3 linked regions of the Homo sapiens genome follow. The protein of the gene in region 3 interacts with the protein of the main gene of each other region in a biochemical or structural test. Each region holds a gene or a part of one and is shown on either strand. Other genes may lie near its edges. The genes, in order: USP1, RNF14 and TAGLN.

Region 1 (7,494 bases), on a different chromosome or scaffold from region 3:
ACCAGCCTCAGCCTCCCAATGTGCTGGGATTACAGGCGTGAGCCACCGCGCCCAGCCTACTGCGATTTTTTTTTAATTGAGAAGGTACTCCTTGTTGAAATGGGGTATTAAAGTGTTACCCCAATAGCATTTACATATTTAGAATCATTTCTAGGAAAAACTTAGTACCAAGAATGTCCATTAACAAGTCATGAAATCATTCATCACTTACCACTTCAGTATACTAGTTTAAAATGAAATTTTAACCAAGTTTTTATGTGTGCCCAAAGCATCATCTTAACTTTTCCAGTTTTGGATTCCATTAAATCATGTCTACTTTAAAGGACAATTAGATGCAACAGATTTCATTATAAACCTCTTTTAAGTATGACAGCTTGGCTGGACTAAGCACAATTTCTCCTCTTTGAAAAACTCCTGCACTGTCAGAAAGTATTCAGTAATAAAGGTAATTATGCATGCTTATTCTCTCATATATATACATATATATATACACACACTTATTCGCTTTAAGAAAACTCAGCTGTATTTATAAAAATATACAAGTAAAAAATTCAAATATTCATATACATAGTTAAGCAGTTTAAATTTTATTGACCTCCCAGTTTTTAAAAAAAGTTAAATTTAAGGTCACACCTCTAAGTTTGATGTACTATATACAGATCGTGCAGAATATGAGTTAAACAGATACAAATTAGTCCATGCCCAAAAAGATATACTAGGGTACAGAATCATCTTCATAAATACATATAAAATTCTTGTGTAGAAGCGAACTGTCCAGGTTTTCTGAGACACTTCTAAGTGAATCAAGGCACAAAATGTACATACACCATTGTGAATACACACATTCTAGACTTTGTGCCTCTGACATAGCCCAAGGATTTAGCTTCATGACTCTTATAAAACTAAATGTACTGAATGAGATTCTGCTTCTTGGGTGAAAAACCACAGGAACTATAAACATCATGTAGATAATTACTCCAAAATATGGAGAATACAAATACGAGCACTTTATTTTAAAAAGCAAACACAAAAGACTGGTGTAAATCCAAGTGTTTAAATGCCTCCGTTTTGGATAATTTAATTAAGAACCGATACAAGTTTGTTCCCAGAAGCTAATGCATCACTAGTCTCTACTGAGGAAAATGAGTTCTAAAAATTAACATGGTTTTCAGTAATTCAAATTTCACTATTTATATAAAAACCTAGAGAGACCAATAATATCCAGTAGCTTCAAAAGATAAGCTAAAGATTCTTTGATGTAATCAACTTTACCAATGTTTGTATGGGTGTGTTTAATATATACACAAGGAAAATACACTCACTCTATAATTTCTTATAAAATAGCAAGTAAGGAGTAGAAGTAGGAGATGTAGAAGGGGAAAGAGAATTCAGAAAGTCCTTCTCTTCAGTAACTTTGACTTCAGAATCATCAAAAAGCAACCACTTCCCCTCATACTCCTTTAAGCTTTGCACTACGTATGAAATTTTGTTCTCAAATCCACTAATATTAATGCCTGTTTGGTCACTGGATTCCTTGTTTCTATCAGATTCATGGGTCCCAGTAGTATCACTAGTCTCAGAATTTCTATTTTCAGCAAACGCTGTACTAGCAACCTTATCAGGATTAGAGGCTTTGTTGTATAGCTCATAATCTGCTTTGCTCTTTTGTCCTCCAAGAAGTCCAATAGCTTCTACATTTTTTTTGTTCAAAACTTTACTTGGCTGTGTATTTCCACCAACTCTAATTGACACTTCTTCATCATTATAATTCTCAACCACACCCCTTGCTTCCTCCTCATTCAATGGTTCTGGCTTACCTATTTCACACATTTGGTCAACCACAAAATTTCCTTTATCTAGTTCTAAACTGTTAAGGTCAGTGACTTTAACAGAAGCAGTGTAATGCCCACTACTAATTGTAATGCCACTATGCATCACAACCGCAAATAATCCATAGCTGTCGTTAGTTGGCTTTGTGCTCCATTCTTCTAGTGACAATTTAAGAGGTGTCAATAAAGGAGTGTTGATCTTGGAAAGTCCACCACCATAACAATCAAACCTTTGGGAGGAAAAAAAGAAAAGGTTTCCTGCAGTTCTATTTTAAATTCAAAATGTTATACCCCAATCTGAAACCAAGTAAAAATCTGAATGAACCCTTAATATCCAGTGTTCATATATCAGAAAAGCAGAATCAAAACAAGACCCCAACTTTGAATAATATTTATAATATATGCAGAAACAAAAAAATAAATAACTGCTAATATTCAGGCATTTCTGTGGAAGAAATAATTGTATTTTTTCCTTTATTTTCCTAATTTTGTGCAGTTAAGAAAATAAATGGTATTTTAAATAGACTGAACCGGAACCAAAAATGTTACGTTTTGGGTTTTTTTTTTTTTAAGGCAGGGTCTGTCACCCAGGCTGACTGCAGTGGTGCAATCATGGCTCCTTCTGGACTCAAGTGATCCTCCCACCTCAGGCTCCTCCTCCTCAGCCTCCTGAGTAGTTGGGACCACAAGTGCCCGCCACCACGCCAAACTAGTTTGTGTATTTTTTGTAGAGATAGGGTTTTGTCATGTTGCCCAGGCTGGTCTTGAACTCCTGGGTGCAAGCCATCCATCTCAGCCTCCCAAAGTGCTAGGATTACAGGTGTGAGCCACCCACGCCCAGCCCATTTTAGTCATTTTTAGTGTGAAGTTTTTCTCTACCAAAATTTGGGAAAGTAAATAAAATAGTATTTTATACTATTAGCAAAGGGAAGGTCCACTGAATAAGGGGCTATATGTTATCTTTTGACATAATCAAGTGTGAGAGAGCTACTGTGAAGCCCTCGTGGTAATTTCAAACAAGCAACTAATGTACAAAGGAGTCACACATACAATGACATTACACATGTCAGAAAAAAACAGACTATCCAAAACAATCAGCATTTTTTTTCAAACTGTTGAAAGACTAGTTTGATTTCCTGGCTTACCTTAAAACTAGGAAGAATTTAGCCTTTCCCGCCCCTTCAAAAAAATCTTGATGTATACAAAATTTGTTCCCTGCTTTAGTCAGTTCTACTGAATTCTGCTACTAACATCTAAGAGGGAATGAATATGAAAAGATGAATAAAGAAACTGGCCGGGCATGGTGGCTCACGCCTGTAATCCCAGCACTTTGTGAGGCTAAGGCAGGTGGATTGCTTGAGTCCAGAAGTTCAAGATCAGACTGGGCAACATGGTGAAATCCTGTCTCTACTAAAAATACAAAAAATTAGCTGGGCATGGTGGCATGCACCTGTAGTCCCAGCTACTCAGAAGGCTGAGGTGGGAGAACCACCTGAGCCTGGGAGGTCAAGACTGCAGTGAGCTGAGGCTGTGCCACTACACTCCAGCCTGGACAACTGGAATGAGACCCTGTTTCAAAAAAAAAAGGAGAAGAAATCATACTTAATAGAATATGTATTCATATCAAAAGGATTTAAGTTGTTTCATTTTTACAGGGAAACTGTTAATAAGAACAAAACTTTACTGAAGCAATCTTTACAATCTACTTCATTTCAGTACTTTATATTCCTACTATTACAGCATTTTGAACAAGACTTATCTTCTACAGCAGCTCATTTTCTTCATATAGTTCTTATTTACAATACTTACTCCAAACCACTAGCAGCAAAGCACTTCAAATGAATAGTTATAACTTCAGGCATTTTGTCAAACAAAAGACTTCGTTCAGCTTCAGTATAATGATGGCAGTTTTCACAGAAATATTTATCTTCTCCTACAATCCTTTCTACTGAAGCAAATTGTGAAATTGCCCATCTCAGGGTCTTCATTTCTGTTTTTGGCTCTGGAGAAACTAAAAAAGAGAATCCTTTCACTCAAATACTTCTCTCAGGCATTCAAAAAATAAACCACAAAGTTTCAGGTTCAAAATTAGCATTTAATTTCAATTGACCGACCCATTCCTAAATAACTAAAGAGATTTTTACTTTCAGAAACTACTTTCATAAGTGCATCCTCAACAGTATACATACCTTTTAAATATATTTGATCGGCCAAAAAATATGATAGACAGCAAAAACAAAATAAGCCTAGTCTGTTTACATTTAATTGCCAACTTTCAATATGTGATAGGTAAACCTGTCTCATGATTATTTCCTATGGTATTTCCATATTTTGTGGTATGCTCTAGACACAACAGTGGCTCAATTATTGTGTTAAAAACAACCTCAGTAGGCCAGGCGCGGTGGCTCACGCCTGTAATCCCAGCACTTTGGGAGGCCAAGGCGGGCGGATCACGAGGTCAGGAGATTGAGACCATCCTGGCTAACATGGTGAAACCCCGTCTCTACTAAAAATACAAAAAATTAGCCGGGCGTGGTGGTGGGCACCTGCAGTCCCAGCTACTCAGGAGGCTGAGGCAGGAGAATGGCATGAACCCAGAAGGCGGAGCTTGCAGTGAGCCGAGATCACGCCACTGCACTCCAGCCTGGGCAACCGAGCAAGACTCCATCTCAAAAAAATTAAAAAAAACCCTCAGTAGCTCTGAAAGACTCAGGTTCCCAAAAGTACACTTATTAAAGCATTTCAGTTTTCCATTCTAACACACTCTACATCAAAATCAAGATGTCACAATTTCCCAAATGCTAACCATTTATAAGTGAAGCCAGATAAGCAGAAAGGTTACATTAGACACTAAAAGCTAGCTTTTTTCCCCTCCCTAATTACACCAGCTACTATTAAACTTTGTGTTGTTAAAGAATTATAAATATTCCATCATGGTCCACACAAGACTCCAATTTTGCTTACTTTCAGAACTCTCCTCTACTTTGGAAAGCTCATCTTCTTGTACTGGCACACTGATGTCTTGAAAATCTTCTCTTCTTTCTGTTAAACTTTCACATTCCAAGCAACGCGTCCTTAATACCAGCTGACCTTGAAATAATTTCTCCACTAGCTCAAAACCAATTTGTTCTTCACCTAAAATGAAAATAGGAAAATGTAAGTCTATACAGATTAGTTTCTCATTATAGTCCAAATAACCAATTTTCCATTTAAATAAAGTATATCATGAATAACAGTTCCATTTTCATAGATCAGCTTATTAGCATTATTAGCTTATTAGAGGTACCCTATTAATGAAATTTAAGGTCCCTGTAAAGATAAAACTGACTATGAAATTACTGTCTTTAAAAGAAGTCAGTTGTAGGCCGGGCACAGTGGCTTAAGCCTGTAATCCCAAGACTTTGGGAGGCTGAGGCGGGCAGATCACCTGAGGTCGGAGTTCAAGACCAGCCTGACCAACATGGAGAAACCCTGTCTCCAGTAAAAATACAAAATTAGCCGGGTGTGGTGGTGCATGCCTGTAATCACAGCTACTCGGGAGGCTGAGGCAGGAGGATCGCTTGAACCCGGGAGGTGGAGGTTGCAGTGAGCCAAGATCATGCCATTGCACTCTAGCCTGGGCAACAAGAGCAAAACTCTGTCTCCAAAAAAATAAAAAAAATAAAAAATAAAAAAAAGTCAGTTGTATTGTAACTCCCTTCCTACAGACACCTCCCCATAGAATAAACCCAGAATAAGGATGACATTTTTGGTAAAACTATTCACTATATCAATATTACACATTTTCCCTGATATCTGTAGATCTGGACAAAACTAGGTAAAAATCTAGTTCAAGTATCGTGTAACTTACAGTTATGCACCACCTACCAACGTTTCAATTATTTAACAATGGACCGCATATGACAGTAGTCTATGATTATTTTTACTGTACCTATGTTTACATATCTATGCTTAGATACGTCTTAGATACACAAATACCATTGTGCTACAGTTGCCTACAGTATTCAGTAGTTATATGCTATACAGGTTTGTTGCCTAGGAGCAATAGGCCATGCAAAGCTTGCCTGTAGCCCGTAACAAATTCATAAACTTTCTTAAAACATTATGAGACTTTTTTGATTTTTTTTTTTTTGGCTCATCAGCTATCATTAGTGTATTCTGTGTGGTGTGGCCCAAGACACTTCTTCCAGTGTGGCCCAAGGAAGCCAAAAGATTAGATACCCTGGTCTATACCATATAGGCTAGTTGTGTAGTACGCTCTAGCATCTAGTTGTGTAAGTACACCGTGAAATTCACACAATGAAACAGCACATTTCTCAGAACATATCCCTGTTGTTAAGCAACACATGACTGTACTTAGTCTTTACTTTTAAAATTTCACTAAATGCAATGTCCTTCATCAGTTTATGTCAAACACTGCATAAAGGGAAATGTACTCTTAAATGTACATTAAAATATACTGAACTTCCCTACTTTATTATTATTTGTTTTTTTTTGAGACGGAGTCTTGCTCTGTCGCCCCAGGCTGGAGTGCAGTGGCATAATATTGGCTCACTGCAACCTCCACCTCCCGGGTTCAGGCGATTCTCCTGCCTCAGCCTCTCAAGTAGCTGGGACTACAGGCGTGCGCCACCATGCCTGGCTAATTTTTGCATTTTTAGTAGAGACGGGGTTTCACCATGTTGACCAGGCTGCTCTTGAACTCCTGACCGCAGGTGATCTGCCCGCCTAGGCCTCCCAAAGTACTGGGATTGCAGGTGCGAGCTAACATACCTGGCCGAACTTCCCTACTTTATAAGCTATAAATTAAAATTACTTTAATGACATTACACACACACACACACACATATATATGCATACAATATATACACACACACTAATCTAAGCATAGCACTTAAAACACCATAGTTCACATTCAGTGTTAAATTTCCTTCTCTTGAAACAATTTTAGCCAGAGATTATATTGTACATGTATCTAGGAAGAGAAAATTCTAATTCTGTAGCTGCTAATGCTTCTACCTATCAAAGTCTAAGAATTATACTAACCTTTGTTTATGGGTTTAACTTCATTAACATTTACAGGTGTAACAGTATTTCCTGGAGATTCAAGTCCACAACCATTAGTTGTGTTATCACTTTCACACTTCCCCAAGTCCTCTTCAGGATCACATTCATTTTCTTTAGATTGTCCTTTGACTCCTTGGTTTGTTGTTATTTTTCCCAGACTACAAAATTTAGAAAGAATGCTGGGTTGCTTAGTTGCAGACTTTAACCAATTTATTTTAACTCTTGATTTCTTTTGTGAGGGTCTTGGACTCTCATTTTCAGAAATATACTTGGGAATTATTTTAGGAGGACTCTCTAATGTATCACTTGTAGCTTTTCTTTTTGATCTAGTTTGTCTCTGGTTCTCTTCCAATGACTGGTGTTCCTTGGATAATTTAACTTTTTTCTTCATGTTACCAAATTCAGTGTCACTTTTTCTTTTCCCATTTCCTTTTGGGAGTTTCTCTTTAAAGTCTTCAGAATGCCTCATACTGTCCATCTCTATGCTGTTAATACCATTCATTTCCTCTTTCGGATGAGGTATTTCTTCTACCTTAGTAGGTAATTCTGCCACATTTTTTACTTCTTCTTTTTTTAGGAGTTGGCATGTTTCTTGAAT
Region 2 (6,926 bases), on a different chromosome or scaffold from region 3:
GGGAGATTCCATCTCAAATAAATAAATAAATAAGTTATTTGATAGCTTATTTTCATTTATCAGCTCTAGACCCAAACCTTTTATATAAAAATGAAGAGACACTGACTATTCAAACTCCCCCAAAAACACCCAGGAGGCCAGGCACTGTGGCTCATGCCTGTAAATCCCAACACTTTGGCAGGCTGAGGCAGGAGCATTACTTGAGCTCAGGAGTTCACAACCTGGGCAATATAGCGAGACCTTATTTCTACTAAAAAGAAAAAAAAAAAATTAGCTGGGCATGGTGCTATGTGCCTGCAGTCGCAGCTACTCAGGAGGCTGAGGTGGGAGGATTGCTTGAGACCAGATCTCAAGGCTGCCGTGAGCTATGATCGCACCACTGCACTCCAGCCTGGGTGACAGTGAGACCCTGTCTCAAAAAGAAAAAAGGCCCATGAAATTCATACTAATTTATGGCAAATCTCAACCCACTCATAAAAAAAGGCTTTCATGAAATTAAGGTAGGTACAAAACTCTTTATTCTATCATATATTTTGCTGACACCACAACCTTCCACAAACCCATTTGTTTTACAGGGCATTTGGGGAGTTACCCAAATCTTTCATTTTACTGAGACAAAAGTACTCTACCAAAACTATACATCTTAAAATTAGCTCATAACTCATGCTTCAAAAGTATAACTTTATAAGCCCTATTTTCTTTGTTAAAATTGAGTGATGAAGACTTTGTACCTAAGAATCACTAAGGTGACCAAACAAATTTTTGAGACTAAACACCAAATACCTGTGTTGTTTTTAATATCATAAATGGGAAAAAAGGCTCCCATTTCTTTCATAAAACTGTATTATAAAGGCTTCTTTCCTACTTCTATGACATCATCAACAATGTATAACAGCTTAACATAAAATGATCTCTAGAAAATATCAAGTAGCTCACGAACTATAGAGCTTCTGAGTAGCTCTTTCTGAATAAATCTGAATTGAACTCTTTGATCACAGAAATCACTCTTCTCAGGTATATACTGTAGAACAAATCATTTTAATTTCCATTTCTTATCTTTAATTTATTCTTTAACCTCAATTTTTTTTTTTTTTTTTTTTGAGAAGGAGTCTCGCTCTGTCGCTCAGGCTGGAGTGCAGTGGCGCTATCTCGGCTCACTGCAAGCTCCACCTCCCAGGTTCATGCCATTCTCCTGCCTCAGCCTCCTGAGTAGCTGGGACTACAGGCGCCTGCCACCATGCCCAGCTAATTTTTTGTATTTTTAGTAGAGACGGGGTTTCACCGTGTTAGCCATGATGGTCTCGAACTCCTGACCTCGTGATCCGCCCGCCTAGGCCTCCCAAAGTGCTGGGATTACAGGCGTGAGCCACTGTGCCCAGCAAATTAACCTCAATTTTTACACAAAATGTCCTGAATGGAAGACCATGAAACTATCTGGTTTAAACAAAATATGGGCCCTAAAACCTAAGCTCAGTCACAAGCCCAGGTAAAAGAGATGCTATTCTGTGACCTTTTTTTTCTTACTTTAAGAATATGTTATATGCCGAACAGTTTTAAAATGTGATTAGTTGCCTTGGTGACAGAACAAATAGCAGCAACTCTGTTCTAATTATAAGATGATTTTTAAATTTATTTTTATTTTAAGACTAAGCATCCTCTTTGACAATCCAAAAACATAATCCTTGCTCACTCTGGACACACACACCTAAAACAGTTAAAAGTGATTCCTCAATTTGCAATAACAAAGTAGGAAAAAAAGAATACGTTCTCAAGCTGTAGTTCAATTTTTCTGTCCTCTTTTCCAAAAAATGTTACTTTGCTACCAAGCCTCCCACCAATGATAAGGAAAGACAATTTTTCAAAAAGCCAACAAAACCCAGAAAAAGGAACAGGTATCAATTCAAAATTATCACCCAGAACACTGCTGTTGCAAAGAAAGAGTATGAAGCCAAATTCCCATAGCTTGTTAGAGAAGATCTTTAAAAATAATTCAGAAAGTTAGGACTGGAACTACTGTAGTATAGACAGGTTATACTGTCACTATATGCATATACAGTGGTAAATGCAGATATAATTCAAGAACATTCAGCTTGGGAATATATTAAGCTTTCTCCTATTCCAGCAGAGGAAATAAAAACATGTGTTCCTGGAATTAATATTAAAATCATCCTTACAAACAGAAGGTAGGGCAAAGGTAAAGAGAGAGAATGTGGAACAAAAGTAGCAAAGACAAGCCATTTTGAATCTAGGTTCTAACACCCAGGAAGGCTGAATAGAACTTAAATTCTTCTGAGCCAGTATCACTAAATTCTAGATTTGGCCTGAAACCAGTGGACCATATACACCACTAATAAATATCAAGTGCCCCACAGTGTTTGTGGTATTAAAACATATATTTATATTATAAATTTCCATTCTGAAAAGCAGATCAAAATGACACTGGACCATCCAGTCAGTTACGGAGTAATGGGCTTCCTCCAAAGAGAACTGACTTGGCAGAAATTTAGGTTGGTAGGAATGTGATTAACATGGAGTAAACGAGATCAGGTTCTCAGTATAATTTTCATAAGGCTTCTACCCACTCCAGTTGTAAGGAATAGTACTGAGGGAACTCCAACAGAATGTCTTAGAAGGATGCTTCTCAGAGACAAAGGGTCTCTAAGTTTAACTCTTGACCCCTCTTCTCCTTACCTAAAGCTTGGGGAAGAAAATAAATATTTAATTTTTAACTATTCAGAGCTTTGGGCACATTATAATATTTAATATTCTGTAGTTTAATTTTCTGAACCTTTGGCTTATAAATTTTTCTCAACTTACATTTAAAAATGTATCAATGCACCTTCTTCAGTAGTACCACATGAAAATATAAACCTCGTTCTTCCATATCTTCTACGCAGGAAGAGTGAATGAATAGTACCCTAAATATCCCGCAAAGTTACTTTGTGTACTTGACGGAAGATTAGGGAAAAACAATCCACTTCCATATCTTGAGCAGTAGTTAACTAGTCTTCTACCTCATCTTCCCAAATATCGTCGTCAACATCCACAGCATAAAACAGCCTGGAAGCATTAAAAAAGGTACATTTTTATACACTTGAACGAAACAATATAAATTGCCTCTCCGCTGAAAAATATTTTTTGTACTCTTATAACATCTTTGTACATCTTTTCTTCTCCTTTAATCATTGCACTGAGGAGGGCTGAAATATGGGTCCCTCTGAACAATCTACCCTAAAGTTAGTTAAGAATGGCCCATTTAAGGTGGATGAGTACTTGTCCAGCTCCATTCCCACTGGCCTAGAAGATTTAATTGGCTGTCTTTTGGCCTTAAGTCCCTTGGCCATAGGGGTCCCACTGAGGGCCTAGATGGAGGCGAGGCAGGTTAGCCACACCACTCCAGCAATGATATGGGACAAAATAAGTTTGACCATCAATGCTGCCTCTGGCAAATCTCAGCCAAAAAGGGGAAAATGAGAAATAAAAATGATACCCTAAGCCCCACAACCAACTGAACAGACCCTCTCCTGGCCAAGGGAACCCCAGAGAAACCCTGAAAACAGTTCCCGGCCATGATGGGATGGGAGGCCAGACACACCTGGTCATACCCCCCTCCCTCACTGACCACCATTAGGCTTTCTTTCCCTAAGGGTTCAAACCAACCCTTTGGGAAGACTTGCTCCACCGCTGATATCAACCAACTGCCTGATGCTGCCCCTCCCTTCTGCAGTTTTGGCACAAAAACCGACCAGCATTTCTTCCTGCCAATAGACCACTGACCATGGAGTGGTTCTAGCCAGTCTATGGAGGATGTGGACTGAGGTTTTCGTGTTCTCTGCTTCACCTTTTGATATCAGAGAACTCCCCCAGAGATCATGCTAATGCCACCATTTTTTGAACATGGGTCCCCTGAAGGGTAATGAAGCTCAACTGCACATGCAGCGTTTTTCTCCTTTCATAAATATTCATGACTCCTCCTATACCTTACTGAATATGTATATCTGGCTATCTTGTAGGGCATAAATCCCTGTCTTCCTCTTCCCATCCTTAGAGTGTCTGTTTCCAGCTTCTGGCTGAAGGCTATGCTTCCCAACCTGTCATAACAGCCACCTTGCCGGCTTCAACTCTTTATGAGAAATAAAGCTCTCCTTTCCAAATTAAAACAAACGAACAAAACAGTCCTTTTAGAATCCAGACAAATTCTCCAGGGCCAAGGATAAACAATAATGAGGGATAGGTATCACAAAACTGATACTCAGCGTATACAATACATGGAATAAGGCAAGACTGGGGAAGTCAGGCAATTTAAACTGAACCCTTTCAAGACACTATTATTACTACTACATGCTCATCACTCCATTCTATCTTCACAGTCCTTGCACCCTCCATTTGTAGAATGTTTTGTAGCTGTCAATTTGTCTTCCTTTCCTTATGTTATCTACAACTTATGCAATTTCCAACACTAGATTTCCAATAGTTCATGGCAGGGCTTGTTTCTTCAATTTCTCTTACAGTTTCACAATACCAATGTGTTTACTTAACAGACACCTCTTAACAAAGATCATCAACTGATGCTGAAAGTGGAGAGCTCTTGGAGAACAGGATATTCACATTGTGCCAAGGAATCACCCCACAGATTACTTCCTAATAACAAAATGGAAAACTTGCCTTTACAATAAAGCAAACTGTAGAAATGAGCACCACACTAATGAGGGACATCATGGACCTCTTGATGTGATCCAATACGGAATACACATCACTCCTCATGAAGTATCAGCATAAAAAATGTTATTCTAAATCGAATCAAGCTTCAGTCTAGACCTAACTTCCAGTTTATAGCAAATAAGAGAAACAAGCTAAAGGACACCATGGACAAATAAAAGTCTAGAAGGTAAGACGTTATATAAGATAACTGACCTGGACTCTTCAAAAAGTGAATGTTTTGCTGGGTGTGGTGGCTCACGCCTGTAATCCCAGCACTTTGGGAGGCCGAGGCGGGCAGCTCACGAGGTCAGGAGATCGAGACCATCCTGGCTAACACGGTGAAACCCCGTCTCTACTAAAAATACAAAAAAATTAGCCGGGCGTGGTGGCAGGCGCCTGTAGTCCCAGCTACTCAGGAGGCTGAGGCAGAATGGCATGAACCCGGGAGGCGGAGCTTGCAGTGAGCCGAGACGGCACCACTGCACTCCAGCCTGGGCGACAGAGCGAGACTCTGACTCAACAAAAAAAAAAGTGAATGTTCACAAAACACACACAAAAAAAAGGTGGGCCAAAGCTTTTCTGTATTAAGAGACTAAAGAGATAGAACCAAATACAATGACTGAACTTGTTCAGATTCTGGTTCAATCAAATAGCTTTAAAAGATATTTTCAGAAATAATTAGGAAGTTTCAAATATGTTTGTTTACTAGATAATAGTATGCCACTATCATTAAGTTTTTTAAAAGTACTGTCATTATGTAGAAGCATTTCCTTATCTTAGGAGAAACGTGGAAATATTTAGAGTTGAAGCATTATCATAACTCCAACTTCATGTAGTTCAGTAAAAATGTTAAGGGAACAAATATGGCAAAGTACTATCAACTGTTAATTTGGGTGGAAAGTATCCTACTATTCATAGTCCTATCCTTTCAAATTTTCTGTGTTTGAAAACTTTCACTATAAAAACTTCCAGATGGTGTATAAGTCTCATTATAAAACTCATTTTTGAGAAAATAATATGAAAATTCCTTTATAGGGGAAAACATGTAAGAGAATTCTCTAAATAAGTCCAAGTACTTAAATAAAACACTGGATTTGTGGTCTGCAAATCAAGTACCAAAAATTGCTGGTGAGCCTGAGGAATTCTGTGTATACATACCGGTTAAAACATGGTGAACCAGGGTCATTGAAATGTTTGTAAGGGTTTGCTCTAGAGAGAGAACCCATGCAAATCCAACAGAAATATTGCATACAGCCAGTACATGTCATCTTGTTACATCCGTCTAATTTCTGGTGGGAAGGATAGAAAGAGAAAAATATCAAGGCTGTAAAAGCAGAAGAGACAGCACATGCCAAAATGATTCAGTACAACATTGTCTTGGTCCTCTCCCTTTTCTTATGCAGGGTTGAGATATCAATGTAACACACTGATGACTATGTAATTCTTTCTATTTTGCATTAGAAGTAAAATACAGAAAATAGCTAGTGTTACTACAATTAGTTACTTGGCACAATCTCTTCTGACAAGCAGTAGATAAAAATCACACAAGTATAACTGGAAAATGTAGTTAGATTAATATTAAAATGTTTGGATGTAACGTGTGGGTTTTTAATTTTTACAGAAATCTAAGTAAATATTTGGTACCAAGTCCTCCACTCTGTCATAGGGCTAAGGTATGTCAAAAGTGATTATATGGCCAGGTGTGGTGGCTCATGCCTGTAATCCCAGCACTTTGGGAAGCCAAGGTGGGCGAGTCATTTGAGGTCAGGAGTTCGAGACCAGCCTGGCCAACATGGTGAAACCCTGTCTCTACTAAAAATACAAAAATTAGCCAGGTGTGGTGGCTGGCGCCTGTAATCCCAGCTACTCGGGAGGCTGAGGCATGAAAATTCCTTGAACCTGGGAGGCGGGGATTGCAGTTAGCTGAGATTGCACTACCGCACTCCAGCCTGGGCAAGAGAGACTCAGTATCAAAAAAAAAAAAAAAAAAGTGATTACATATAGTCCTAGTTTCCTTAACTGGAGCCCACTATGTTCAGTTCAGACATAACAGATTAGAACAATAGAATCAAATGCTAAGATGTATTTTGATTTTAAAACATATTAAGATTTTTGTCAAGAAGCAATATATCTGTCTAATTATTTTGACTCAAATTAATTCCTGAGTGTATCTTAAACAGGTGTGCAGCATTCCAGGATAAATAGTTCTGAGAGATCAGATTTGA
Region 3 (9,349 bases):
GTCTCTGCTGTTGCAGTGTGAAAGCAGCCATAGACAATATGTAACAAATGAACATGGCTTTGTTCCAATAAAACTTTACTTACAAAAGCAGACAGCAGGCTGGATTTGGCCCATGAGCTGTAGTTTGACAACCCTTGGTCTAGAACATTCTTTGCCAAGACCAGCTACAGAGCCACTGGAGAGACCTTCCAGAAGCCACATTGCCCCCACAGAATACAGCCAGCTGGTGCCTTTGTCCAGCTGCGGGTGTGAGGGTTTACTGCCTCTGCCTCAAGCAACCATTACCTCCCACTCTCACCCAGAAGCAGGCCCTGGCCTGGAAGCCCGAACTCCAGAACTCCAGCTCTTTTCAGGTCAGCTCAGCTTCTGGTCTGCAGCTGAAGAGACTAAAACTCGCCCACCCCAGGCAAGGGCGACGAAGCCACCAAAGCCCAAGAGTTCTTGGCAAAGAAGCTGCATTTCCTCAGAGAAATCAGAGACACCTGGTCTACCCATCGACTTCCCCTCATGCCCTTACGCTCTCGTAAGGCTACCCTTACGGAGTAGCCTGAGTAACCAAGAAGTCAGAGTCCCCCAGGGATCTTCCAGAGCCAAGAGTCTGCCTGCCAGGGAATGGGAAGCCTGGCCCCATCCAGCAACTGCCACCCTGAGGGCCTGGGCCTGGCACTGCTCAGGAGTCCCACTCATGGAGAGGGGTGGCAGCAGGAGTGGGCCAGGCAGGTAGGTCCCTGGGCAGACAGACAGGGGTGGCTGGGAACAGGAACAGGAAACTGACCTGTCCACTGATGTCACCCTAGGGTGCTGTGCCTTCTCTCCAGTGTTTGTCTGAAGAGACTTCCAAAAGAGGTACCAAAGGAAGCCGAACCCATCCCCTGGCCTCAGAGGGGTCAGAGGTTGGGAGGGACACGCTGGTCTGAGGATGGACGCAGGAGCGCACTCCCCCGGCTCCCTCTCTGGTGAGACCCCTCCCCACTGGCACCCCACCCGCGGGAAGCAGAGCCAACACTATCACACCCCACTGGTCCCAGGCCAGCTGCCCAGCCCGATGCCCTGCCCTTCCTTTCTCAGGGCTGACAGGCTTTCTGGGCTGGAGTTCCTCATCTGTGAAGTGGGGGTTATGTTACCAACCTCAGAGGGCTGTGAAAATGGGACGGTGTCTGTGAACTCCCTCACATACTGCCTGGCCCTTAGCAGAGCTCCTCGAAATGTCAGTTCTTTGCTGCCCGGAGCCAGGCTCCTGGTAATGACCAGGGAGAGAGCCTGCCCTTGACCAAGGAGTGAAAAACTGACCTCAAAATGTCAGTTCTTTGCTGCCCACTCCAGCCTCCACCCGCTTCTCACAATCATTCCCTGAGCGCGCAGCAGCTCACACGGAACAGAGTTCACACGGACTCATCGAAGTGCCCGTCATTGGGCATCCCTCTCCTCCTTGCGTCTGTTTCCTTATGTGTAAAGTGGGGGCAGGACCACTTCTGAGGACCCAGTTCTCTGAGCACTGGGGATGAGGTGGGCTCCTGGCCCAGCCACCCCTCTCCCTGCCAGTGATGCCAGAGACCCCAAAGGCAGAGTGCTCTGTTCTGCTGTTCAGCTACAAACAGCCAATCCCTCCCTTCACCCTGTGTGTCCCACCCCCGCTCCCCAACCACCCAAGGACTCCTGCACAAAGAACTGTGGTCCAAACCCCCAAGTCAGCTGGGACCAGGTGATTTTGGTAGCCCTGCATCCTGGCTTCCATCCACCCCAGCCTCTGTCTCAGCCTTTGCACCACCATCCCAGACAGGCATCCACCTTCTGTCTCTGGCCCTGCTTCTACCCCCACTCCACCTGCCCTCATGTCTGCCTTCCCCTTCTGCACCCCTGCTGGGCTCCTGAGGAACAGGATGGAAGGAGAGTGTGTCCCCTACCCCCAGCTTCCAGTCTCAGGAGGGTCAGAACAGACAATACAGGTCAAAGCAGCAAGGCTAAGGGTGACAGGTACACAACGCTGCAGCCCCCAGATCTAGAGACAAGATTAGGATTTCGGTCAGAGGGGGATGAAGCACACACCATCCCCACTCCCACCCAGCACCACCATCCTTCCCCTTCCTCCTCCTGGGTCAGGGTCGAAAAGTGGAGAATCCCCAGAAATCCTTTAGAGTCCTCTGATGAAGCCTCCCGAGTCCTGCCTTCGAGCCAGTGGGGAGGGGGAGAGGAGGATGATTACAGGGCGGCCCCCCCAGGGGCATCTCAAGACACTCCCAGGACAGCATGGACAGGCATGGACCCTCCTGCCCTGTGGCTCCTGCCAGGACCCCTCCCCTGAGCTGCCCAGTGGGTGAAAGTGGGCAGTGGAGAAAGAAAGTCCAGGGTCAAACGGGAAGGTGGCACCCCCTACCAGCAGAAGCCCAGAAACACGAGCAGAGCCAGGGGCCCCTGCAGGGCTGCTGTGCCCCTTCTCTCTTCCCAAATAGGAGTGAGCACACCTGGACCTCTGAGAGGGCAGGAGGGTGGCTCCTCTCCACTCCACGGACAAACAGGAGTGGCCTGGCTACATAAATGTGTGCCATCCTCACTGCTACCTTTGGAATAGCAACTTCGAAAGGGAACCACCCTTTGGGAAAGACCAAGGGTCCCAGGCCTGCCCCGCCTATCACTCCAAAGCTCCTCCTTGGCAGTACCCGCCCCCCACCCCTCTGCTACAGTGGGGGTGACCTCCCACTGTCAGACAGTGGAAGGGGCTGCTTGTCAGAAGGACAGGCCTTCCGTCTCCACTCTTTGCCCCTGACTGGAATACAAGAGTTCTGTGGCCCTTCACATTGTCACAGGGCTATCGCTGCTGCTCAGGCCCTGGGGACCCGCCAGAGTGGGACACCGTGCTCCAACACAGGTGCGTTCACACACTCCTCACCTCCTTGGAAGTTCTCCTGGAGGGGCAACAGACAGTAGAGCCTTGGCCTAACCGGCCGGCGCCTGCACCCTTACACACACCTTGTGGATGTGGCTGGCTGAGATGGGGAGCCTCCCTCTCACCCCGGTGGTTTCCATCAATTCCTCTGCACTAGCCAAGTCATCCGGGGCATTTCAATGAGCCCGGGGCTGCCCAGTCTGAGAGAGATCCAGGACGCTAGTGATCCAGCCCACCCTGCCTGGAGCTTGGGCCCCCATGCTGACTGAGAGGGTGGGTTTCCCTAGCCAGGGAGCTGGAGCTGGCGCCTGGGACCTCAGGAGAGCCTGCCTGAAATGCACCCACTGCTCCTGTCCAGCTCCAGCCCAACTTCCCTCCAAGCCCCAGCCAATGCACTCACAAGGCTTCCTCAGGGCTCGCAGGAAGGAGTGAAGACTTGTGTCTGGGTTCGGACAGACAGGATGGGGCGCTGGCTGGGTGAGGGGTTTAAAGGGCTGCCGCCGTGGTGATGTCAGCCTCCCCCACTGGCTCGCTCCTCGGCCCCCTCCCTGCTAGAGGAAGCCGGCTCCGCTCCCCACCCCCGGCTCCCCCAGTGACTCCACACAGGCTCCATATTTGGGGAAAGACACCAAGTTGGAGCAGTCTACCGGGGCTGCCGAGACATTCTCTGCATGCTTTGGAGATGGAGCGGGCCGGGGCGGGGCACGCTGCCGGCGGGGAGCCGGCCCGGGAAAAGCCTTTTATGGACAGGACCCTGCCCGGACTTACGGCTGCTCCTACTTCACTGTTCTCTGGCCCCGAGTTTGAGAAGAGGGGGAGTTCAATAGAGTCTGGCTGGAGAGAGGGGCAAGGGGCTGGGGAGCCGGGAATCCCAGGGGTTTGTGGGGACAAACCAGCCACCCTCTCCTCCTGGGGCTTTTAGCTCTGATGGGACATGGGATCCAACCTTTCCTGAGGACCTACTCCACACCAGGCCCTTTGCAGTGCTCTCATTGAATACTCACAGCTACAGTGTGAGGGTGTAATTACATCCCCATTTTATAGATGAGGAAACTGAGGCCCCGAGTGCGTCTTCCTCAAGGCCACATGGTGAATGGTAAGTGGCAGATCCTGCACACCTCTGCCAACCCGCATGGGTGCAGGAGAGGTGGTCAGACCCACCCTTTCAATTGGACCACCCTGCTCAGGTTGAGAAGAGCTTTCAGTGCAGGTAGGTCTTGAGTTATATGCTTTAGTTGGGGCTGGGATTTGAGGGTTCGGCAGAAGCTGAGTCCAACTCCGGTCCCCATCCAGTGGGCAGTGTCAATAAGAGGGTCTATAAGGCCTGGCAGGGCCTGAGACACTAACGCAGGAGAAGGAGGCTCAGGAGGCTGGTATCATCCCTTCCTCCCTTTAGGAACAGTCCCTACCAGCCTGGAAAACAGACCAGCCTCTGTCACTCCAGAGATAACCCACTCTCATCTTGCTCGTACCTGGCTTCAGGGATCTTGGGGAGAGATAAGAGGTTAAAAAAGGTGAGACTAACAGTGGGATCCCTGGACTGACTGCTGTGGCACTCCCCTGCAAGGGCATCTGGTAGGGAAGACCTAACACTCTCCACTACACACACACTGCCACACCCGGCACCACCCCTAGCCAAACAAGGCCCTAGGAGGGGGCTGCCAGGCCTGGCAGAGGAGGGGCCCGCCTCCGCAGTTCTGCCCACTGCAACTGGACATGCTCCAGAGCCCAGGGGAGGCACAGCCATAGCACCTCCCAGTGGCGCCTGCAGGAAAAGCAGGAAGAGGAGTGGGCCCTGGCGAGGGGAAAGCCCACTCCTCCATCCCTGACCCTGCAGACCTCTGGTTGTGTTCTGAATTCAACAGATTCCTTGGCCCCCAAATCATGTCCTCCTTAGCCGACTGAAGTCTAAATGAATCTTTCAGGGACATATCAAAACTCCCTCCTCTTGGAGCCTGCCCAGCTTTCATCACCCTCCTGCCTCGGCCTGCACGCTGAGCGGATTATAAACGCCGCATCAGGGAGCACTGCTTGGGCCTGTGGCTTGGTGAGCTGGGGGCCGCTCAGGTCAGAGGTGAAGTGAGCCTCAGTCTGGTGGGCGGGGCCAGGTGGGCAGAGACTGCTGTTCCTGGGGAGGTAAGGAGGGATGTCTGCAGTGGGATGGCGTGGGAAAGGCTTTTCCAGGAACTGGCCTCTGTCCAGCACAGTGCCCCGGTAAATGTTTACTGAATTAATGCTGTTGCTGGAGGGACAGGAAAAACGGGAGAATCAAGGAATTGCAGTTCCCAGTAGGGCCATGGCTTGAAGAATGGGGAAATGGAAGACCTCCGCCTCTCCCCTCATCCTCAACAGCTCCACCCAGAGGGAGTGCAAACAAGGGCCCCAAGAACTGAGTCTGGTTGTTTATTGAATGCAAATTCATTCATAGAAAACGGAAATGCAACCATAGCATGGAGACGCTCTGAGAAAAGATCCAGACCCACCTCATCTCCCAGCCCTTCAAGCAGAGCTATAAAAACAAGTTTGGGAGAAAAACACATTCCCATCCCCAAAGCAGAGGCCCCGCCTGAGCTCCCCCATCCTCAGCATCTGGGGTGGACCAGGTGGGACGAAGGGGATCCAAGGACCAGGGTGGCCAGGGTGCCCAGAGCTGGGGCAATTCTTTGTAAACTCCAAGGTTTCATAGGTATGTGTGTGCATGACTAACACAGAACTTGCCTGAAGACTGGACGGAAACTTAGAAGCCAGCCCTGGGTCCTAGAGCGAGGCTAGGACTGGGCACGTAGAGGGAAACAGCACATCCCTTCCTGAAGCCCCTTTCTAAGGTAGGCACTGGGGTGCCCACAGCTGTGGAGGCAGAACGGGCTGAACTCTGTATCATCCCTCCTTTGCCCCTGGACATTCTTGGGCAGTGTCAATGGCACTGAAAGGCCACCAGCTGGGGTTTGGCAAGACTAAGGGCCTGGAAAGAAGGAAGGGAAGGGGTGAGGCGCTTCTCCCTCCAGTCCTGGTGCTGGCATCAGTCTGGGAGCTGATGGGATGAAGAGGTGACCTCTGAATTCAGCCTCTTGAATCAGAAGGCGGTTCTCAAATTGGGCTGAGCGCATTGCTAAAGAGCCAGCCCTGAGCACAGGTCAGAGGGAAGAGAATACGCACTGCCCCAGGCCCCTTGCAGGCCTTAGCACCAAAAGTCTGGCACCAGCTGGCCAACCCCCAAAATCTCATACCCCCATCCATCCTGGCTGACTGGAATGGGCAGTGATGGCAGCCAGGGACAGCCCAAAGAGAACTGGGGCCCTGATACAGGACAGAGATTCAGGCCCCAGACTAGGCCCTGGAGTGGGAGTATGGGAGGAAAAAGAGGCCTTAGGTCCCAGGCTGGGGCATTGTGGGGAGGAGGACGGGCAAAATGCAAGGCATGAAATGGGGAGGGTGTCCCTTCCATCCTTCCTCTTGCAAAGGGACAAATGGAGAGCCAAAGGACAGGGGCCCATGGAAGGCCCCAACACTGAGAAGAAAGCAGCAATTTGGCCAACATCTGGGGGTTCCAGGGGAGCAGGCCTGCTCCTCGGCAGAGGGCAGCTGCAAGGTTCCATGCCACCCCATGGCTGTCCCAGGCCAAGCCTAAGCTAGACCTGGCTGTCCTGCTGCCATCCAGTGCTGGGCAGCGGTGCTGGGACTCATCCCCACAGCACGACAGAGTGACCGGTCTATGACACAAAGGAGCTCAGGGCCCCTTGAGGTGAAGCGAAGGGCCCAGCTCCTGCTAGAAGACATAGATCTTGTCCCGCTGCACAGTATCCAGGTCGTCATCCAGTGTCAGCAACACCTGGGGTGTGGACGCCAGATCAGCCACAGAGAAGGAGGCAGCTGCTACCTTCACGTACCCACCCGGCTCGGCCGGGAGGCCCGCTTACCAGGAAGGACCCGAACATGGCGATGGAGGAGAGGAAGTGCCAGATGTCGTGGTCGTCAAAGAAGTCGAGGAGGATGCAGTCCCGGTTGTGCTCCCTCGACTCTGCAGGGGTTTTCTTGGGGAGCAACAAGAAAAACTGCCGAATGACCCTGCTCTGGCAGGGCAAGGGCCAGACCCATCTGCCATCTTGCTCCTGGGCACCCCTCTCTCCAGCCCCAGGCAGGACAGCAGCAATTCTGACCTGTCCCTTGTCCTTGTCCCTACCCCTTCCCGATCTAACAAATGGCCTTTGGTTACAAACTTCTCCCTGAGTTCACTGGCTTCTCTTCCCTTTTCTTTCACTCTTACCCTCCTCCTTCCTTCTGATTCTCTTCCCTTGACCTAAGAGCACAGGGTTGCAACAACCTTGAAGGCCTTCAGCTCAGAGATGGCAGAAGGCCTTCTCACCCACTTCCCGGCCTTGGACTCCGCCCTTGCTCTAATCTTTCTGCAGGCTCATTGTTTTTTCCAAAGCACTACTGTCAGGTTACACACCTGCTCCGGGACAGTAGCCATAACCTGTGGCACTCAAGGTCCTCCCTGCTCTACTCATAAGCTCTATCCCATAAGCTCATCCAGGCTGTGTCTGTCTGTGCTACATGCTGAGGCCACAGACATAACCAAGACCTGCCCCACCCTCAGGGAGCTCACAGTCTGCCTGGCTCCCAAATGAGTGCATTCACTGACCTCCAAATCTGCCCCTGTATCATTACTAAGGTCACAGTAGGTCTGGGCCATGGGGCTCTTCTCCATTACCCAAGACTTTTTTTTTTTTTTTTTTTTTTTTTTTTTGAGACAGAGTCTTGCTCTGTTGACAGGCTGGAGTGCAGTGGAGAGATCTCAGCTCACTGCAACCTCCACCTCCCGGGTCCAAGCCGTTCTCCTGCCTCTGCCTCCCGAGTAGCTGGGACTACAGGCGCCCACCATCACGCCCAGCTAACTTTTGTATTTTTACTAGAGATGGGGTTTCACCATGTTGGCCAGGATGGTCTCAATCTCTTGACCTCGTGATCCACCCGCTTCGGCCTCCCAAAGTGCTGGGATTACAGGCGTGAGCCACCGTGCCCAGCCCTCCTCACCCAAGACTTTTATAGCCCAGAACAAGGCGCACTTTTTCCAGGAAGCTTTCCTGGACTCCTAACTCGGAGAGACCCGTTAGTCCTCTGTCCTCCTGCCCCGTCTTGCCTGTGCCCTTCATTTCATGTATCACATCGTAAACAGCACTAACAGTCATGCACCAACAGTCCTTCTAGCCCTCTTCGGCTAGTTTATGAGTCCCTCAGAGACCATGTCAGACTTAGTTCTATTCCCAGAATTAAAGCCTGACATGTGGTAGGTGTCCTGCAAGGCAGAGAAGAGAGCCAAGCCTTGCTGGCTTCAAATGCCAGCTGTGCCACTCACTGGCTATGTGCCCTGGGGAAGTCACTTGGCCTCTCTGAGCCTCATCTGTCTCGTAAGTAAACTGGAGCTATCTCCAGGCTGGAATGCTAGGAGGATTAACTGGGGAAGCCGCTATGAAAGTGCTGGCCTATGGTAGGTGTTCCCAAATGATGTTTAAAATTTTTTTTTTAGAGACATGGCCTATCGTCCAGGCTAGAGTGCAATGGTGCAATCTTGGCTCACTGCAGCCTGGAACTCCTGCACAGGCTATCTTCTTGCCTCCGCTTCCGAGGTAGCTAGGACTACTGGTGAATACCACCACGCCAGGCTAATTTTTTTATTTTTATTTTTTTATTTTTTGTAGAGACGGGTTCTTACTATATTGCCCAGGCTGGTCTTGAACGCCTCAAGTGATCCTCCTGCCTCAGCTTCCCAAAGTGCTGGGATTACAGGTAATCCCAGGCTCAGCCCCAATGTTTAAAAAGAGGACTGGCCACTTGTTGGCTCACAAGGAGCCTGAGGGTGAGTGCTCACCTGCCAGGTGCTGAGTCCCTGGAAGAAGAAGAAGAGCGCGAAGCCCCAGACCACGGAGGTGCAAACGATGCAGAGCAGGGGGATGAGCTTGATCCTCTCCCCACTCCGGAGCTGGGAGGGGCCAGGCAGGGACAGCAGTCTGAGGGCTTACCCCTGTCCCACCCCGCTGTCCCACCCAGCCTTTCCCAGATTCCCTTTCCTCATGGCCTCCCAGGCCTTCAGGACTGCTCCTTGGATTCATACCATTCCGCACAACCACAGAGCTCAACCTGCCCCCACCCCGATGTCCACCCCACCCAGCCTCCATGTATCCAGAACCCTGTGTCGGGACAGTGCACTGGCCTCAAGGCGCTCCCTATGCAGGGGGCTCCAATCAGAGTGGAAGGCAGGATGGTTTCTGGGGAAGCACCTGATCCTGAGAGGCCCACACCCTACCTCCCCTCAGCCCCTTCTGCATGGAAAGGGGCACTTACAACTGCAGCCTAAAATGCCACCTGTTTCAAGGGCCCTTGGAAGGGGCTCAGTAAATGGTCTTTGGGCTGCAGTTGGCTCCCAGGGGCCCATGCAAGAGGCTTTAGCCTCTCCCCTCCGCAACC

The links.
Region 1: the proteins of TAGLN (region 3) and USP1 form a complex in vitro, tested with the Homo sapiens proteins (one study listed by BioGRID).
Region 2: the proteins of TAGLN (region 3) and RNF14 form a complex in vitro, tested with the Homo sapiens proteins (one study listed by BioGRID).

Annotation. Positions count from the first base shown.
Region 1 is NC_000001.11:62,444,811-62,452,304, reverse strand, and holds the end of USP1 (ubiquitin carboxyl-terminal hydrolase 1), read right to left. Parts: coding exon 6,876-7,494; intron 4,965-6,875; coding exon 4,794-4,964; intron 3,841-4,793; coding exon 3,639-3,840; intron 2,060-3,638; coding exon 1,324-2,059; 3' UTR 501-1,323; downstream 1-500. UniProt on the Homo sapiens protein: Negative regulator of DNA damage repair which specifically deubiquitinates monoubiquitinated FANCD2. Also involved in PCNA-mediated translesion synthesis (TLS) by deubiquitinating monoubiquitinated PCNA.
Region 2 is NC_000005.10:141,983,867-141,990,792, reverse strand, and holds the end of RNF14 (E3 ubiquitin-protein ligase RNF14), read right to left. Parts: intron 5,991-6,926; coding exon 5,860-5,990; intron 3,061-5,859; coding exon 3,003-3,060; 3' UTR 501-3,002; downstream 1-500. UniProt on the Homo sapiens protein: E3 ubiquitin-protein ligase that plays a key role in the RNF14-RNF25 translation quality control pathway, a pathway that takes place when a ribosome has stalled during translation, and which promotes ubiquitination and degradation of translation factors on stalled ribosomes.
Region 3 is NC_000011.10:117,193,368-117,202,716, reverse strand, and holds the start of TAGLN (transgelin), read right to left. Parts: upstream 3,348-9,349; 5' UTR 3,285-3,347; exon of another isoform or gene 2,888-3,284; intron 2,867-2,887; exon of another isoform or gene 2,805-2,866; intron 957-2,804; exon of another isoform or gene 803-956; intron 1-802. Other genes in the region: SIDT2 (SID1 transmembrane family member 2 precursor), read right to left, coding at 6,651-6,713, 6,802-6,915, 8,754-8,864. UniProt on the Homo sapiens protein: Actin cross-linking/gelling protein. Involved in calcium interactions and contractile properties of the cell that may contribute to replicative senescence.